Linked DNA regions of Homo sapiens: region 1 is linked to region 2. Evidence: fine-mapped expression QTL. A gene starts in region 2. The other region holds a variant in brackets. All regions are shown on one strand. Distances are between the middles of the regions. Region 1 overlaps HEY2-AS1 (HEY2 antisense RNA 1). Region 2 holds the start of HDDC2 (HD domain containing 2).

Region 1 (5,381 bases), 270 kb after region 2:
AGTGTTTTTTCCACGTCTCTTTCAATTCAAAGATTGCATTATTAATTTTTCACATATCACCAGAAGACAAAACATGGCAGTAGAATGATAGTACTTGGAGGCACTTAAATAAGAGAACAAAATATCTAACAATGTTGGCTGTTTTAACTGAAATGGGTTTCTCTGTATGGTTGCAAGTTCCTTATTTCTAGAAGGTTTGAGAGACTGGATGTCAATATTTACCATATGTGTTGATGGTACTATTGTTTTCATTTTGAGATTAAACACAATCTTTTCTACATCCTCTCTCAATTCTAATATTTTACAATTCTAAGATTTTTGGGAGTACAGATTTTTGAGAGAGTACTGTACAGATTTTGAGAGTACAGTTCTAATCTGTATTACAATGACATCAAAATTCATTAACTTTATTCCTTACTTATATCAAGTCTTCTATATTCCCCATATGTCTGAATTTATTATGCCCTGTATGTACCCCAACTCCTCTGCCTCTCTGCAAAAATGAACATCCAAGATCCAACTCAAAGTCTTAAAAAAAATCAAAGCCTTATGTTTTCACAGATTTCCTTGTGATTAATACAAGAAGAAACAAAGGGAAACTGTAAAAGAGAATTATCACTACCTCTAGGATGGCTGTTGAGAGCTGGAATAGTGTATCCAGGAAACAAATACAATAGAAGAGTGTTAGGCACCAGAAAAACTCACTGCCCATCAAAGCACCTAGGGCCACGGGGTACCAGCTTGGTTCCTTGAGGAGCAACACACCAGTGTAGCCCAAATAGGTTAAAGCACAGCCAGCCGGACAAGAGACTCAAAAACAGACAAGTGTGCTGCAGAGAATGACGCTTCTTGAAGCAGAGAGGTGCTCTCATTGCACGCCAAGTGCAATGGTCTGAGCTGCTGTTGATGGGGCATCAAGGGGGCAAGAGATTGGTTCCGGATCATCCTGCAGCTCAAGATGTGCAGACTTGTGGGGTTGTGGGTAGAAAAGCAAACATCCATTGGCTTCTGAGTCATTATGAATTGAGAACATTTTGAAAGTCAATTCCAAAAGATGGAGCAAGAGATGATGATAGGACCTAACATAAGGCCTGGTCACAGGAATATTCAACACAGAGGAGTGGATATGGGGAGGTACAAGACTCTTGGAGAAAGGAAAACAGCCCTTTACAGTAGAGTGGGCCATGGGTGGGAGCCACTAGGATGCCAAGTTAGCTCCAGCAGCAAACACCCACATTCTTATTCCCATGGTAATACAGGAAAGAGCACTGGACTTTTCAACTCAAAATAACTCCTCAATAAAATGCAGTCAGTCCAATAAGTTTCCTTCAGAAAGATAGCCTCTTGTCCAAGTAAGTATTTGCAAAGCCTCTCTCCTCAAATCTTCAATACAGGGAATTAGCCATTGCAGAAAGCCTGGGAAGAATTGGGCAGCCCCCCCTTTCCTCAAGCACCACCGTCAATCATGACCTAACACTTCATAAATAACCCAAAGAGGAAAACTTTCCTCAGTCGCATTTAAGCCAGCGAGGTGTATATAGCTTTAACAGATCCAGGACACTTATCTCAAGCTGGGAGTGTAATTTCATGGTAATAATTTGCTTAAAGTGTTGCTGATTGCTTCCTATTTCTCCCCGTTAATGACTTTTGCACCTTTCCACCATTCCTTTTATATGTGCTGCTATGGCCATTACCTTACAGGAGGCTGTTTGGACAACACAGGGCCTTTCCATAGGCTGCTAAGACCTGTACTGGACACTCCCAAGACCTGAAAAGTCTCTTTCGTATAGGTTCCATTTTTTTTTTTTAAGTTTTTTTTTTTTTTTGACTTCTGTCAATACATTGCTGTTTCACAATCACTGCTACTCTTGCAGTGCATATATTCAGGAAGCAATTGAACAAAGGTAATTTGCTGTTCATAAATTTCCCAGTGACTGAAACCAGCCTGCAAAAGGTGGTGTGGAGAGCATCAATTTGGATGTATAAAAGAATATATCTCGTTATGGCTAGAAGTCCAATGTGGAATATCTTGGAAAGTGAGTTAGCGGTCTGAGGGTCATTTGAGAGCCTCTTAATCTCTACATTTTTAAAGCAACTCATGCTTGCAGATTTTGGAAAAATATTTTCTTCCCCTATTGGCAATGATTCCAACTTTGAATGATGAAGTAGCTTTTCCCAGATTTTATGAAGAAAAAAAATAAATAGTATGTTCCTCATGCAACCAGGAAACATAATGCTTGGAAATGCCAGGGAGTAAGGGCGCATTACAGCAAATGAACAGTCCTGTGGGTCAGCTCCGCGTCTCAGCCTGACTTCTCCCCTTCTAGTTTCAACCTATCTCTTCTTGCCATATATTCACCTTCTTCCAGCCCTTGCCATCCATCTTTTTTCTTTAGATTTCCCTAATATGTATACAGTGTTCTCTCCTATTCTTATTTGTGATATCTGCCCTTCTCACCTCACTTTCATTCCACCAGAGGCAGGGCAGTCCTGGGATCAGAGAGGTGGACAGA[C/T]GGCAAACAGCGGGTGCTCCTCAGGTTCAGGCATTTGATTTCACTGCCCAAATTCCTCATTTCAGCCTGAAGGTGAGCATGAATGAGGAACTGAATAGAGATCCAAGATACTGCACGTGCGTCAGCACCACCATGACAGCCCAGGCTCTGAATCACAAGGCGCTTTAATCCCTCAGTGACAAACCCACCTAAGGAAAGGGATACCTGAAACCGGACCAGGAAATATTTGTGCAGGAGGCAGGGAACTCGATCTGCACAGCTTTTCTCAGTCATTCAAATTCCAATTGAAAACAAGGACAAGTCCTAACTCCAAAAACAGAGTGTTCTCAACACCCACGTCCATCATCCCGAAATGTAACACAGAAAGAGTTTACCAGGGATGTTGTCCCAAGACTCCTTGCATAATTTGTGGTCCACTTGCAGCAAAGGCTTCTCCTCAGGGCCCCCCAATGTTTTCCTCTGCAAAGAAAGAAGGTGACTTCACAGATTCAGACCTTGGAGGAGTGTACTGTCACAGTTCATGTCACACTCACAAAAGAATCAACCTCATAATGTGTAGGTTTCATTCATTCATTCTTCCAGAAAATTTATATAAGCTGCCTACTATGTGCTACACATTGATCTAGTGCTCAATGATCTCTGCCCTCATTGTATTGTAGAAGTAGGTGGGAGAGTCAATAAACACATTAAGTAAATTACCTTGTAAATTAGAAGGCAATAAGAATTTAAAAATTGAATAGGGTAAGTGAGTGGGACAGCAAGGGACAGTAGGAATAGGGTAGTCCCAGTGGACCTTATTAAAGAGGAGATATTTCAGCCAAGTCTTTTTTTAAAAGCAATTTCAACTTTTATTTTAGATTCAGGAGATACGTGTGCAGGTCTGTCACATGGGAACACTGTGGGATGCTGAGGTTTGAAGTATGAATGATCTGGTCACCCAGGCAGTGAGCACAGCACCCATAGGCAGTTCCTCAGCACCCCCTCTAACACTCCCCGACCCCAGCAGTCCCCAGTGTCCGTTGCTCCCATCTTTATCTCCACATGTACTTGATGTTTAGTTCACGTTTATAAGTGAGAACATGTGGTATTTGGTTTCATTTTCTTTTCTTTTTTTTTTTTTTTTGAGTCGGACTCTTGCACTGTCGCCCTGGCTGGGTGCAGTGGCGCGATCTCGGCTCACCGCAACCTCCACCTCCCAGGTTCAAGCGATTCTCCCACTTCAACCTCACAAGTAGGTGGGATTACCACCACACACCACCACGCCCGGCTAATTTTTTTGTATTTAGTAGAGATGAGGTTTCACTATGTTGGCCAGGCTGGTCTCAAATTCCTGACCTTGTGATCTGCCTGCCTCAGCCTCCCAAAGTGCTGGGATTACAGGTGTGAGCCACCACATCCGGCCCTGGTTTTCTATTCCTTAGGATAATGGCCTCCGGCTGCATCCATGTTGCTGCAAAAGACATGATTTCATTTTGTATGCCTGCATAGTATTCCATAGTATATATGTACCACATTTTCTTTATCCAGTCCACCACTGATACACATCTAGGTTGATTCCATGTCTTTCCTTTTGTGAATAGTGCTGCAAAAAACATGCAAGTGCATGTGTCTTTTTTGTAGAATGATATATGTTCCTTTGGGTACATACCTAGTAATGGGATTGCTGGGTCAAATGGTAGTTCTAAGTTATTTGAGAAATCTCCAAACTGCTTTCCACCGTGGCTGAACTAATTTACATTCCCACCCAAAGTGTGTAAGTGTCCCCTGTTTTCTGTAGTCTTGACAGCATCTGTTATTTTTTGGCTTTTTAATAATAGCCATTCTGGCTGATGTGAGATGATATCTCATTATGGTTTTAATTTGCTTTTCTCTGATGATTAGCAATGGTGAGCATTTTTTCATGTTTGTTGGCTGCTTATATGTCTTCTTTTGAGAACTGTCTGTTCATGTCCTTTGTCCACTTTTTAATGGGGTTGTTTTTTGCTTGTTGATTTAAGTTCCTTATAGATTCTGGATATTAGACCTTTGTTGGATGCATAGCTTGCAAATATTTTCTCCCATTCTATAGGTTGTTTACTTGTTGCTAGTTTCTTTTGCTGCGCAAAACCTCTTTAGTTTAATTAGGTCCCACATGTCAATTTTTTTGTTGCAATTGCTTTTGAGGACTTACCCATCAATTCTTTGCCAAGGCTGACATTGAGAAGGGAATTTCCCAGATTTTCTTCTGTAATTTATAGAGTTTGAGGTCTTACATTTAAATCTTTAATTCATCTCGAGTTAATTTTTGTATATGGTGAAAGGTAGAGGTCCAATTAAAGAAGGTGAGGGAGATATCCAAGCAGACATCAAGGAGAGGGCACTGAGAAAGAGTTGGAACAAATAACAAGAGCATTCCTTATGTGACCCAGGAGCAACAAGGAAGCCACTGGGGCAGGATCTGCATAAGAGATCAGAGTAGGAGGCAATGAGGTCAGAAGGTAACGGGGGCTCTACAAGTCCTTGTATGGATTTGAGCTTATATTCAGAGAAAAGTGGAGAGCCATTTGAAAGTTTTGAACAGAGGAGTAGAATGGCCTTATTTCCCTTTTAAAAAGATCACTTTGACTGAGAATACACTCTGTGTGTGTGTGCATGTGTGTGTGTGTGACTTAATCTATGTGACAGATGTTGGCAGCTCCACCAGAGTGGTAGCAGTGGAGGTGATGCAAAGGAATCAGATTCTGGTTAAATTTTGAAAGCAGAGCTGACAGGATTTTCTGATGAATTGCTTGTGAGATGAGAGAGAAAGAAGAGTCAAGGATGACGTCAAGTTTTTTTGGCCTAAGCGATTGTAAAAATGGAGTTGCCATCACCTGCAATGGGGAAGTT
Region 2 (5,381 bases):
ACTCCTTTACTTTCCTACACTCAGGGCTTTGGTTTATCTGCCCTTCTCTCTGCATGCAGTGACTTCTCCTACCTCTCTGGCTACGTTAACCCTTTTGAGCTCAACTCAGATTGCACCTCCTCCATTAAGATCAACCAAGAACAGGTGATCTCCCCTGCTCTTACAATACTTAACATTTTCGACCATAACTTACATTTCACTTCTTACAGAAGCTATTTTGGGCCTGCGTAATTCACTTGGGATTTATTTACTCTCTTACATGCTAGTAAACTTTTGTTCTGTGCTCAAAAAGCATTTTAACACTTGTCGATTAAATGAAGGGGGAGAAGATACCTCTTTCTCAGCTATGTCTTGCACACACAACTCCAAAAGGAAGCCTCACGAATGGATACTACTATCCATAAAAGGCACTAGGAAAGAGCACACAGTGTACTAATACAATGCTAGAATTTTAGACATAACACACTCACCTTCAAGGCCCCAATATCACACTTAAGTTTCCCCTGATACCCTAGGCAGGCTCTATCACTTGCCAACAGAAACCCCAGATTGCAGTTTACAACAACTGAGGCAACATAACCCACATCCTAAATTTGTATGGTTTGCTTCAAATAATTTTTCTTGACCTATAAACTAACCTACAAGGATTTGACATGGGTCTCAGTAGTAAAAACGGGTGCACACCCATAGACCAGAATCTCTCACGAGCATCAAAGTCCAGCTCAGCTTACCGGTCTTTGTTAAGACGGTCATCTTTGATCACCATAGCCATAACTGCCATCCGGTACATGTGATCTGAAACGCTCTCCGGCCTCTGGACATTTCTGTATACCCAGCCAGTTCGTGGGACTCTCTGATAAATATGAAGAAGAAAAAGAAGTTTTAAAGAACAAATATTAACTATCTGCTATGCTCTTCAAGAGATGTCCAGGATATAACACACAGAAGCCGGGTCATAATTTCAGAACCTATTACAAAATGTTTTGCTAAACTAGCTAAAATGATAGACATCTGGAATCAAATGAACTAGAGAGCTCAGAGAATGAAAGGGGTAGAAGACAGAGAGAGATAAGTCACAAAGTCCATTCGTCAAATTATTCTGTTACTGATGTATAATTATGGAACATATGCAAGTCCTTTAAACAAAAACAAAACTGCATTTTTCCGAACAAGAGTTGCGGCTTTTTGCCTTCAAATAATCCTACACAAGCAGAAAACACTGTATTGAAGGGTCTGAACGTGAACGAGTGATAGGCTTCCAAATTCTGAGGCACAAGGGATAAGGGCACTTCTAATTGCTTGATGCTACCAGCCGTGACTCTTCCTTTTATTCACATCATAACTTCATCTTGTGAAACTGCATTTCTTCCTCAGAATTCTACATCTCTAAGGAATGTTATAAATAGTAGTCAGAGTGGCATGAAACGGATAATTTACTTTGAACTTGGGAGAGAGACGGGGAAGACGCACATGATGAAACTCGTGTGTATTACATTAAATCCCGTTTGGGGGGTGGCCGGGAGAAAAGTCTTGTTTCTGGAAGTAACTGTGAGACAGACATAAAAAGCTCCACTTAAAATCTGAGGAGCCGACAGATTCTGTTCTTCCCACCCGTGCTCAGAAGCAGCCGCGCTTTACACACACACACACACACACACGAGTTCTGGGGTCGTGAGCACACACACACACACACACACACACGAGTTCTGGGGTCGTGAGCCCCGGAAAAGCTCAGTGCAGGCAGGGCCAGGCCGGCTGCTCTCCGGGAACTGGCGCGGCTGCAGTGCGGACCTCGCGGCGCCAGGCTCTAGGCTCAGACTCCGGGCCGCCCCAGCTGGCCAGCCTGTCCCGCCGGCTGCTTCCTCCGTCCACCGTCGGCAACGCGCGGCCGCATCCGCAGGACTGGGGCCTTTCCGGAATTCGGCGTGGCGGACGCGGCGCAGGAAGGGCAAAGACCGCCGGCCGAGCGGGGAGGCCGGAAGCTCCGCCGCCCCACAGTCCCGCCCGCTCGGCCGCGGCCTCCCGGCCTGGTGCCCGCTCACCTTGAGCTGCCCTACCAGCCGCAGGAACTGCAGTAGGGACCGAGCCCCGTGGCCCGAGAAGGTCGCAGAGGAGACCGAAGCCATGCGGCCACCGACCCCGGCTGGGCGGAGCAGGCCGCGGCGAAGCTCCTCCCCGTCCTCCTCCTCCTCCCCTTCCCCTTGTCTTTCTTCCCCCTCCTCTTACTCTTCTATCTCTTTCTCCTCCCCCTCTTCTTCTTCCTTCTGCCCCTCTTCCTGCTCCCCCTCTTCCTCCTCCCCTTCCAACTCCTCCTCCTCCTCCCCCACTTCCGCTTTCTCCTCTTCCTCTTCCTCCTGCCCCTCTTCCTCTCTCCCCCTCCTCTTCCTCCTCCTCCTGTTCTTATTCCTCCTCCCCCTCCTCCTCCTGTTCTTATTCCTCCTCCCCCTCCTCCATATTCTCACGGTTTTCTCAGGACCTTCTGTCCAGCCTTCGCCTTCTTGGCCTTGGTGTCCGCTGCTTGGGCATTGCTCCGTCAGTGGCAGACACCTTGCTTGGCACATACTTGACACTCAGTACTCTTTATGAAAAATAAAGCTCTCCTTTCTAAATTTATGAACCTCGTTATTCTTCAGTTGACAGTGTAAAACCATGAAACTGGATGAGGTCACCTGGCAAGAGGGTGTGAATGAAGAAGAAAAGACACCCAAGACCTGAACCCCAACATTTAGGCTTTGTGAGATCAAGAGGGAACAGCCAGTGAGGTAGGAAGAGGATTAGTAGGTAGGATAGTTGTGTCCTGGAAGCCATGTACAAAAATATTTCAAGAAGGAAGGAATATGGTCAACCAAGTCAATGTGAGGACCAAGGTTTGACTTCCAGACTTAGTAAATTCAATATTATTGGTTACCCTGACAAAAGCAGTTTTCAGTGTAGTGGGCCAAGCAGAACCTAGTGAGATAATTCCGAAGAGAATAGGAGCAAGTATTACAGCACATTGGAGATGGGGTTGGGGTGCTGTTAACTAGTGGAGAGATTGTTTCAAAACAGGAGATATTATGTATGTTTACTGATGAAGGGGATCTAGTAGAAAGGGAAACATTGATTATGTAAGAGACAAAGAAGAGAAATATTTGAATGTCGGCCTTGAGTAAGGAAAAATATTCCCATCTGGTGTACAAGATAAAAGATGGGCTTTAGATAGGAATATGGAGAATTCATTCAAATATTGGAGGAGGACAGAGTATAGGGTGACTAATCAGTCGCACATGTGGTCATGGGAGGTTGTAGAAGTTCTCTTCTGATTGCTTCTATTTTCTCACCAAATTAGGAAGCAAAGTATAGGCTGGGATGTTATAATAACAAACAACCTCCTTATTTCCTGTATCTCAGCAGTTTAACACATCAAAGGTTTATTTCTCTCTCATGCTAAGTGTCTATTGTAGATCAGCTAGAGGATGCTGCTTGCTCTAACCTTACTCAGGGAGCTAGGAGGCTTTCTTTGCTCTCTTTTGCCAAAATTGGAAAAAAGAAAAGTGGCACTCTGGCTCTTAAAGCCTGTCTCTGGAAGTGATATATGACCTTTTGTCTACGTATCATTGGTGAAATAAGTAACACTGCCACGTCTAACTTCAAAGGGGGCCTGTGGAGTGCAATCTTGCTAGGCCTCTGGGAAGAAAGGAGGCTAGAATGTTTGTGAATAGAGGAGGAGGCATTTGAGGTTTAAGGAGTGATATAGTTTGGCTCTGTGACCCCACCCAAATATCATGTCAAACTGTAATCCTCAAAGTTGGAGGAGGGGCCTGGTGGGAGGTGATTGGATCATGGTGGCAGACTTCCCCCTTGCAGTTCTTGTGATAGTGAGTGAGTTCTCATGGGATCTGGTTAATGGTGTGTAGCACTTCCCCCCTTTGCTCTCTTTCTCTTCTGCTCTGCCAGGTGAAGACGATGCCTGCTTCCCCTTCACCTTCTACCATGATTGTGAGTTTCTGCAGCCATGCTTCCTGTACAGCCAATGAAATACCTTTTCTTTATAAATTACCTAGTCTTAAGTAGTTCTTTATAGCAATGCAAGAATGGACTAATACAAGGAGAAAGAAGGCATGAAATAATTTTTTTGAAGACTGGTTCAGCAACAAGATTAAATATGACTAAGAACCAAATAAATGCCAAGGACATTGGGGCTTGTATTAAACGTGGTTAGGATAATGACCTGGAAGCCATTTTTATGATGGTAAGTGGTGCTAAATAAAGGAAATATCAAGCCAGGTGTGGTTTGTGCCTTTATCCCAGCTACTTGGGAGGCTTAGATGGGAGGATCACTTGAGCCCAGAAGTTTGAAGCTGCAGTGAGTTATGATCACTCCAGCTTGGGAAACAGAACCTGTCTCTAAAAAATTAAAAATTAAAAAATGGAGGGATCAAGGTTTAAAAAGAAGGATCAAGAATCAGAGGCAAAGTCAGACAGTCCACTGGAGGAACACGAAAGCAAATGACCAAAAAGATCCAGGAGAATAAGGAAGATGAGGATGTTGGATTTGCTGAAGGATGTAGTAAGGGGCTTTCAAGAGATAGGTGCCATGAAGCAATGGGGCTGCAAGCTAGCTGGTGAATGTGCAGTGTAACCCTTACGGTTCCTTCTGAGCAGCCTTGTCTTCTTTTGCCAACAATGCATTGATTTCCTTTGAGCTCCTCCTGATTCATGCAGGCTTGATTTAGTTTCCATGGGTATTTCTGTCTGTATTTGCAACTTTCTTTGCAAAATACACGTGAGTTATCTTAACTTTGTGTAGTGAGCTGTAAAGAATTTCTCCAGTTTCCTAAGTGATCAGAAGTTGGAAGACGTCAAGTTGCTGAAAAATTATGAATTGAGTATAAATAGTTTTTGAGGGACACTATTTAAAGATGATATGGATTTTTGGAGGGGACATTACTATCTAAAAGTAAATTGTTACTGTGAAAACTCAAAATATAGTGCCGACTTCTTGCTTTTGTAAACTGAAGATGTTCATCAGGGTTCGTAACAAGGTTTATTCCTACTATATCATTAAAGACCAAGATGTTTGACTCTAGAAGGTGGAATAGTAGCCTCTTAAGGATATCTAATTTTTCCAGAGCTTGCAAATATTTCTATATTACATGGCAAAGGAGAATGGTAGCAAATGGAATTAACTTTGCTAATCAGCTGAACTTTAAATAGGGAGATTATCCTGGATTATCCCAATGAGTGAGATGTAATCTCAAGGGTTCTTAAAGATGGAAAAGGGAAGGAGAAGAGTGAATGCCAAAGGGATGTGATGGGAGAAAGACTCAACTGGCCATTGCTGGCTTTGAAGATAGAAGGGGCCATGAGCCAAGGAATGCAGGCAGACTCTAAAAGCTGAA

What was found. PIP is the estimated chance that this variant, and not a neighbour inherited with it, causes the effect. A credible set is the group of variants that fine-mapping cannot tell apart.
Region 1: its variant is the best candidate, but not a certain one, in a credible set for the expression of HDDC2 in cerebellum (GTEx, PIP 0.78).

The regions. Positions count from the first base shown.
Region 1 is chr6:125,572,157-125,577,537 of GRCh38, forward strand. It overlaps HEY2-AS1 (HEY2 antisense RNA 1), which reads right to left. Exons shown (of 5, transcript NR_183491.1): 5 at 5,372-5,381. Among named protein-coding and RNA genes, the nearest start is that of LINC02523, 100 kb to the right of the region's middle. The variant C/T (reference allele first, on the strand shown) is at 2,514.
Region 2 is chr6:125,299,807-125,305,187 of GRCh38, forward strand. HDDC2 (HD domain containing 2) reads right to left here and starts at 2,161. Exons shown (of 6, transcript NM_016063.3): 1 at 2,043-2,161; 2 at 732-853. The coding sequence starts at 2,126. RefSeq lists a silencer at 1,851-2,190 and a cis regulatory region at 3,684-3,864.